Regions from separate parts of the Homo sapiens genome. Here region 2 is linked to region 1. A link means that fine-mapping ties the variant in region 1 to the plasma level of a protein whose gene starts in the linked region. Region 1 holds a variant in brackets. A gene starts in the other region. All regions are shown on their reverse strands.

Region 1 (4,400 bases):
GTATACATGTGCCATGGTGATTTGCTGCATCCATCAACCCGTCATCTACATTAGTTATTTCTCCTAATGCTATCCCTCCCCTTGCCCCCCACCCCACTAACAGGCCCCAGTGTGTGATGTTTCCCTCCCTGTGCCCGTAAGTTCTCATTGTTCAACTCTCACTTATGAGTGAGAACATGCGGTGTTTGGTTTTCTGTTCCTGTGTTAATTTGCTGAGAATGAGAATGATGGTTTCCAGCTTGATCCATGTCCCTGCAAAGGACATGAACTCATCCTTTTTTATGTCTGCATAGTATTCCGTGGTGTATACATGCCACATTTTCTTTATCCATTCTATCATTGATGGGCATTTGGGTTGGTTCCAAGTCTTTGCTATTGTAAATAGTGCAGCAGTAAACATACATGTGCATGTGTCTTTATAGTAGAATGATTTATAATCCTTTGGGTATATACCCAGTAATAGGATTGCTGGGTCAAATGGCATTTCTGGTTCTAGATCCTTGAGGAATTGCTACACTGTCTTCCACAATGGTTGAACTAATTTATACTCCCACCAACAGTGTAAAAGTGTTCCTATTTCTCCACAGCCTTGCCAGCATCTGTTGTTTCCTGACATTTTAGTGATCGACATTCTAACTGGCATGAGATGGTATCTTATTGTGGTTTTGATTTGCATTTCGCTAATGATCAGTGGATGATGAGCCTTTTTTCATATGTTTGTTGGCCACATAAATGTCTTCTTTTGAAAAGTGTCTGTTCATATTCTTCACCCACTTTTTGATGGGGCTGTTTGTTTTTTTCTTCTAAATTTGTTTAAGTTCCTTGTAGATTCTGGATATTAGCCCTTTGTCAGATGGATAAGATTGCAAAAATTTTCTCCCATTCTGTAGGTTGCCTGTTCACTCTGATGATAGTTTCTTTTGCTGTGCAGAAGCTCTTTAGTTTAATTAGATCCCATTTGTCAATTTTGGCTTTTGTTGCCATTGCTTTTTGTGTTTTAGTCATGAAGTCTTTGCCCATACCTATGTCTTGAATGGTATTGCCTAGGTTTCCTTCTAGGGTTTCTAGGGTTTTAGGTCTTACATTTAAATCTTCAATCCATCTTGAGTTAATTTTTGTATAAAGTGTAAGGAAGGGGTCCAGTTTCAGTTTTCTGCATATGGCTAGCCAGTTTTCCCAAAACCATTTATTAAATAGGGAATTCTTTCCCCATTGCTTGTTTTTGTCAGGTTTGTTGAAGATCAGATGGCTGTAGATGTGTGGTGTTATTTCTGAGGCCTCTGTTCTATTCTATTGGTCTATATATCTGTTTTGGTACCAGTACTATGCTGTCTTGGTTACTGTAGCCTTGTAGGATAGTTTGAAGTCAGGTAGCGTGATGCCTCCAACTTTGTTCTTTTTGCTTAGGCTTGTCTTGGCTATACAGGCTCTTTTTTGGTTCTATAAGAAATTTAAAGTAGTTTTTTTCTAATTCTTTGAAGAAAGTCAATGGTAGCTTGTTGGAAATAGCATTGAATCTATAAATTTGGACTGTATGGCCATTTTCATGATATTGATTCTTTTTATCCATGAGCATGGAATGTTTTTCATTTGTTTGCGTCCTCTCTTATTTTGTTGAGCAGTGGTTTGTAGTTCTCCTTGAAGAGGTCCTTCACATCCCTTGTAAGTTGTATTCCTAGGTATTTTATTCTCTTGGTAGCAATTGTGAATGAAAGTTTGCTCATGATTTGGCTTTCTGTTTGTCTGTTATTGGTGTATAGGAATGCTTGTGATTTTAGCACATTGATTTTATATCTTGAGACTTTGCTGAAGTTGCTTAGCAGCTTAAGGAGTTTTGGGGCTGAGATGATGGGGTTTTCTAAATATATAATCATGTCATCTGCAAACAGAGATAATTTGACTACCTCTTTTCCTATTTGAATACCCCTTATTTCTTTCTCTTGCCTGATTGCCCTGGCCAGAACTTCCAATACTATGTTGAATAGGAGTGGTGAGAGAGGGCATCCTTGTCTTGTGCTGGTTTTCAAAGGGACTGCTTCCAGCTTTTGCCCATTGACTATGAAGTGGGCTGTGGGTTTGTCATAAATAGTTCTTATTATTGTGAGATATGTTCCATCAATACCTAGTTTATTGAGTGTTTTTAGCTTGAAAGGGTGTTGAATTTTA[T/C]TGAAGGCCTTTTCTGCATCTATCGAGATAATCATGTGTTTTTTGTCATTGGTTCTGTTTATGTGACGGATTGTGTTTATTGGTTTGCATATGTTGAACCATCCTCGCATCCCAGGGATGAAGCCTACTTGATCATATTGGATAAGCTTTTTAATGTGCTACTGGATTTGGTATACCAGTATTTTATTGAGGATTTTTGCGTCGATGTTCATCAGGGATATTAGGCTGAAATTTTCTTTTTTTGTTTTGTCTCTACCTGGTTTTGGTATCAGGATGATGCTGGCCTCATAAAATGAGCTAGGGAAGAGTCCCTCTTTTTCTATTGTTTGGAATAGTTTCAGAAGGAATGGTACCAGCTTCTCTTTGTACATCTGGTAGAATTCGACTGTGAATCTCTCTAGTCCTGGGCTTTTTTTGGTTGTTAAGACTATTAATTACTGCTTCAATTTCAGGACTTGTTATTGGCCTTTTCAGGGTTTCGACTTCTTCCTGGTTTAGTCTTGGGATGCTGTATGTGTCCAGGAATTTATCCATTTCTTGTAGATTTTCTAGTTTATTTGCGTAGAAGTGTTTACAGTATTCTCTGATGGTAGTTTGTATTCCTGTGGATCAGTGGTGATCTCCCCTTTACCATTTTTTTTATTGTGTCTATTTGATTCTTCTCTCTTTTCTTCTTTATTAGTCTGGCTAGCAGTCTACCTATTTTGCTAATCTTTTCAAAAAACCAGCTCCTGGATTCATTGATTTTTTGAAGGGTTTTTCATGTCTCAATCTCCTTCAGTTCTGCTCTGATCTTAGTTATTTCTTGCCTTCAGCTGGCTTTTGAATTTGTTTGCTCTTGCTTCTCTAGTTCTTTTAATTGTGATATTAGGGTGTCAATTTTAGATCTTTTCCACTTTCTCCTGTGGATATTTAATGCTATAAGTTTCCCTCTAAACACTGCTTTAGCTGTGTCCTGGAGATTCTGGTACGTTGTGTCTTTGTTCTCATTGGTTTCAAAGAACTTATTTCTTTCTGCCTTAATTTCGTTATTTACCCAGTAGTCATTCAGGAGCAGTTTGTTCCGTTTCCATGTAGTTGTGTGGTTTTGAGTGAGTTTCTTAATCCTGAGTTCTAATTTGATTGCACTATGGTCTGAGAGACTGTTTGTTATGATTTCCGTTCTTCTGCATTTGCTGAGGAGTGTTTTACTTCCAATTATGTGGTCTCTTTTAGAATAAGTGCTATGTGGTGCTGAGAAGAATGTATATTCTGTTGATTTGGGGGTGGAGAGTTCTGTAGATATCTATTAGGTCAGCTTGGTCCAGAGCTGAGTTCAAGTCCTGAATATCCTTGTTAATTTTCTGTCTCATTGATTTCTCTAATATTGAAAGTGGGGTGGTAAATTCTCCCACTATTATTGTGTGGGAGTCTAAGTCTCTTTATAGGTCTCTAAGAACTTGCTTTATGAATCTGGGTGCTCCTGTATTGGGTGCATATATATATTTAGTATAGTTAGCTCTTCTTGCTGCATTGATCCCTTTACCATTATGTAATGCCCTTTTTTGTCTTTTTTGATCTTTGTTGGTTTAAAGTCTGTTTTATCAGAGACTAGGATTGCAACCCCTGCTTTTTTGTTTTGTTTTTGTTTTTGTTTTTGTTTTTTTTGCTTTCCATTTGCTTGGTAAATATTCCTCCATCCCTTTATTTTGAGCCTATGTGTGTCTTCTTACATGAGATGGGTCTCCTGAATACAGCACACTGATCGGTCTTGACTCTTTATCCAATTTGCCAGTCTGTGCCTTTTAATTGGGCCATTTAACCCATTTACATATAAGCTTAATATTGTTATGTGTGAATTTGATCCTGTCATTATGATGCTAGCTGTTTATTTTGCCCATTAGTTGATGCAGTTTCTTCATAGTGTCAATGGTCTTTACATTTTGCTTTGTTTTTGCCATGGCTGGTACTGGTTGTTCCTTTCCATATTTACTGCTTCCTTCAGAGCTCTTGTAAGGCAGGCCTGGTGGTGACAAAATCCCTCAGCATTTGATTGTCTGTAAAGGATTTTGTTTCTCCTTCATTTATCAAGCTTAGTTTGGCTGAATATGAAATTCTGGGTTGAAAATTCTTTTATTTAAGAATGTTGAATATTGGCCCATACTCTCTTCTGGCTTGTAGAGTTTCTGTAGAGAGAGCCGCTGTTAGTCTGATGGGCTTCCCTTTTTAGGTAACATGACCTTTCCCTCTGGCTG
Region 2 (4,400 bases), not on the chromosome of region 1:
GCAGCGCTGGCCCAGGGCCTCTCCACGAGAGGAAAGCTGGGTCTGTCTATGGCCCCTTCAGCAGCCCAGGTAGCCAGAGGGGAGCCCATCAGCTCCCAGTATCCATGTACCTGATTTGCAGTGACAACCTCGGGGGCAGGGACACAGAAAATACTGTGGGAGAATGCAGGTAATTGTAAGGATGAATGGATTTTGAATAACATACCTCTGGTTAAAACAAGTACATATATTATATACATATAAATTATATACATACATGTACATATTGTAAACCAAAAAGTAACTGAAGCATATCTCAACAGATTAGAGGTTTATTTTGTCCCAGGTAAAAGAAACACAAATCACTGTAGGATCTGTGACCTGCGCTTTTTCCAAAGAGAGTTTTGGGAACTTCCATCTTTAGAGGGGAAAGAGCAAGCAGGAGGGGAAGAAAATAAACGAAAGATGGGTTGGCAATGAGACAAGTGTTTACATTGTGGCAAGGCTCTGTAACACTCAGTGAGTCTACACTTTACATGTAAAAAGAAGGGACTAGAGGGAAATTATGCATGGATCTCATGCTCAGTACATCTACATTTTATATAAGATAAAGTAAGCATGTGAAATTACAGGTATTTGGGAACAAAAGGAAGGCAGTTTTTGCATGACTCATTTCCCAAGCTTAACTTTCCCTTTGGCATAGTGAATTTGAGGTCTCAAGATTCTATTCTTCTTTCACAGTATTTTACATATATTTATATATAATATATATAAAAATATCTATATTTATATATAAAATATAAAAATATCTATATTTATATATAAAATATAAAAATATCTATATATATAAAATATATAAATATATATAAATAATATATATATTCCACATATATAATATATTGTAATTATATATATATACTCTACATATATTATATATTATATATAGTCTACATTTAAGTTACTGTTACTCACCTATCTCTTCCACTCCTCATTTCTCTTATCCTTCGAATATTGGGATCTCTCCCTGAAGCTTTCTCAATTTAGAAATAATCAGTTTAGAATTTAGAATAATCAGTTTGCCCTTTGACCTTAGAGAAAATTTGCTTTTGAATCAGGAACTTCTGGGAACTGTGGCTTAGGGATCAACTTTACCTAGGCATGGCTCCACCTGCCTTGCTTGTTTTTTCCTTTGTCCACTTTCTCCCTGCCTATGCACCGGGGATCCAGGGTCTGTTCTCACTGCATCCTCTCCCTACTGCTCACTGTCCCTGGGGTCCCTTCCAGCCCCCATGTCTCAGAACCCAGGACACAGTTATCTCAGTGGAGAGCTGTGATGGTCAAGGATGTCTCAGGAAGAAGAGGGCAAGAAGAGTACAGGAAACTTGGGTAGAACAAGGAATCTCGGGGCATAACAACAAAAGAAATCATGGTTTGGAGTAGCAGGTAAGGGAGTGGGCTCTGGATATCAACTGCCTGGTTTCAACCCTTAGCTCTGTGCTTTTGAATGAGATAAAATCCCCAGATTCTCAATTTCCTCATCTGTAAAATGGGGATAATAGGAGTACCTATTTCATAGGCTGTTGTACGGATTGAATAATCAATAGGTGAACATACAAAATGCTCAGAATATGGCCTGGCACATAGTAAGCACTCAATAAATGTTAGAGATTATAATTGGGGGTCCAGGACATATATATGTAAGTAAAATAGAAACTTCATCACCACTGGGGCTATTTTTAGATATCTTTGAACTAATTTTAAAAAGGGGAAGAGATAAACTATAAACTTAGTTATGAAAAATTCGCAATAATAAAGTTAGTTATCTAGGGATGTTAACGACTAATTTCTATTAGCAATATAATTATTAGGTACTTTATTGATATCGAAGATAAATTGTTTTTTAAGATTTGGCTACTCTATACATTTGACCATGCTTTTTAAAAATAGCAGATTATGTATTCATACTTTATTAAAAATAAAATACATACAGATAATGTATTAACCCAACTTGACATTCTGCCCTAAAATCTAAATAAACACTATATGAGTGATTACTCTTCTGAATTTATTGAAGCAACAACCACATTGAGCTAAGTAAAGTGGGATAAAGAATTGGAATAATGTCAGTATCTGGATCATGTAAGAGAGTGGTAAGGTGGAGGGAATAAATTCTATGCTTTTTGATAGGGGTTGAATTAAATTCGTTAATTAAGTTATTTTTTTCTAATCAGTTGTCTTTTTTGGAATTTTTCTTCTCTTTTCTTGTTTTTTTTTTGGGTCTTGACATCTTTATGAACACAGAAAGACCAGTGCTAACAAGTAAAGAGAAAAACGAGGCTTTTACCACTACTCGTTCAGGTCTGCTGACAGTACATTTTTAGATAGACCTCCTATTTTGAAAGGCTGTAGATATAGAATATTAGCTTGACTTGAGCTCTGAAAACCTACAGAATATGGAAATTAAAATGATCCCCATTTACTGTTACCATCATTTAGATAGGGTAAGATGCAGAGATGGGGAATGTATACAATCACCCAGAAGAAATGTCAAAATGAAGAGCAGGAATATAGGATACCACATACATCTCCTTCTGTTGCATTTGGAAACAAATTTCTTTTCTTTTCTTTTTCTTTTTTTCTTTTTTTTTGAGATGGAGTCTTGCTCTGTCGCCCAGGCTGGAGTGCAATGGTGTGATTTCAGCTCACTGCAACCTCTGCCTCCTGGGTTCAAGCGATTCTCTTGCATCAGGCTCCCCAGTAGCTGGGATTACAGGCATGCGCCACTACACCCCGGCTAATTTTTGTATTTTTAGTAGAGACAGGGTTTCACCATATTGGCCACGCTGGTCTGGAACTCCTGACCTCAGGTGATCCACCCACCTCAGCCTCCCAAAGTGCTGGGATTACAGGCATGAGCCATCATGCCTGGCCTAGAGACAAGTTTCTTTAAACTGTATTCTTGTTACTATAAAGGTGAAAAAAAGGGAAATTGAAAAAAACTTTAAAATCCTGAAAATAATAATGAAGGATATAAAAATTATCCCAAATCCTGCCATCCAGAGTTAGTCACTGTTAACATTGTGGAAGAATTTTTATTCTTTGCACATTAACATTTCAAAAATTTTAAACAAAATTTTGACCAATTAAATATATATATATAGTTTTCCGTTTTATTTTTTTTCTTTTCTTTTCTTTTTTTTTTTTTTTTTTTAAGACAGAGTTTCACTCGTTTCCCAGGCTGGAGTGCACTGGCGTGATCTTGGCTCACTGCAACCTCCACTTCCCGGGTTCAAGCGATTCTCCTGCCTCAGCCTCCCGAGTAGCTGGGATTACAGGCATGCGCCACCATGCCCAGCTAATTTTGTATTTTTAGTAGAGATGGCGTTTCTCCATGTTGGTCAGGCTGGTCTTGAACTCCCGGCCTCAGGTGATCCGCCTGCCTCGGCCTCCCAAAGTGGTGGGATTACAGGCGTGAGCCACTGTGCCTGGCCTCCTTTTTATTTTTTTCACTGAACAAACCATGAAACTTTCCCAGATGTAAATATCTATTTCCCATTTTTCTTTTTTTAAAATAAGGCATTATTTTAACCATTTGAGTGTTAGATATTATTTTTAGATAATATTTTAATTTAGGCATAACTGCCGTGCAAAATCTGAAGATTAATATCTACCTTGTGAGTCATTCCTCTGTGAGACAGTGCATGTTAAATATGTTGAATTGGCAGGTGAAAAAGGAAGAAAAAATGAGTAGTGATTGGTTATCCACAGCTATGAATGAGAAATTGAAGGTAGTAGACTATGGATGACAAACCTATTCTTGGTTTCCTTCTGTTTCTGAAATTCTAATTACTACCACAACTACATGAGAGACACTACTAACAAGCAAAGTTTTACAACTTTTTAAAGACATAGACTTTATGTTATTATAATTAAAAATCATGCATTTTTGTCATATTAATAAAATTGCATATACGATATAAAGGCATGGACAAAGGTGAAGTAGCTTCAAGAGACAGAGTTTCTGACATCATTGTAATTTTAAGCATCGTGGATATTCCCGGGAAAGTTTTTGGATGCCATTGGGGATTTCCTCTTTACTGGATGTGGACAATATCCTCCTATTATTCACAGGAAGCAATCCCTCCTATAAAAGGGCCTCAGCCGAAGTAGTGTTCAGCTGTTCTTGGCTGACTTCACATCAAAACTCCTATACTGACCTGAGACAGAGGCAGCAGTGATACCCACCTGAGAGATCCTGTGTTTGAACAACTGCTTCCCAAAACGGTAAGTGCAGAACGCTTTATAAGGGCAGCCTCGGGCCATGAAACACAGATATGCAAAAGGCCTTCTAATAAAAACCACATCTGTACAAGCTCTTATTGTATTGTAGCTAAAACCTGTCTTTTCTCTTTGACCTAAAT

Alleles and levels. Positions count from the first base shown, and alleles are read on the strand shown. Strength reflects both the effect of a copy and how common the allele is.
In carriers of allele C in region 1, the plasma level of the protein whose gene starts at base 4,155 in region 2 tends to be higher than with T alone (weak association).

What was found. A credible set is the group of variants that fine-mapping cannot tell apart. PIP is the posterior inclusion probability: the model's chance that the variant is causal. Protein levels are from antibody-based Olink assays in UK Biobank. Linkage for the fine-mapping came from a reference panel and not from the study's own genotypes, which makes the PIPs less certain.
Region 2: it holds the start of SELE, and the variant in region 1 is the best candidate, but not a certain one, in a credible set for the plasma level of the SELE protein (UK Biobank, PIP 0.71).

The regions. Positions count from the first base shown.
Region 1 is chr4:102,274,692-102,279,091 of GRCh38, reverse strand. All of the region lies in intron 6 of SLC39A8 (solute carrier family 39 member 8), which reads left to right. Among named protein-coding and RNA genes, the nearest start is that of SLC39A8, 69 kb to the left of the region's middle. The variant T/C (reference allele first, on the strand shown) is at 2,167.
Region 2 is chr1:169,733,834-169,738,233 of GRCh38, reverse strand. SELE (selectin E) reads left to right here and starts at 4,155. Exons shown (of 14, transcript NM_000450.2): 1 at 4,155-4,263.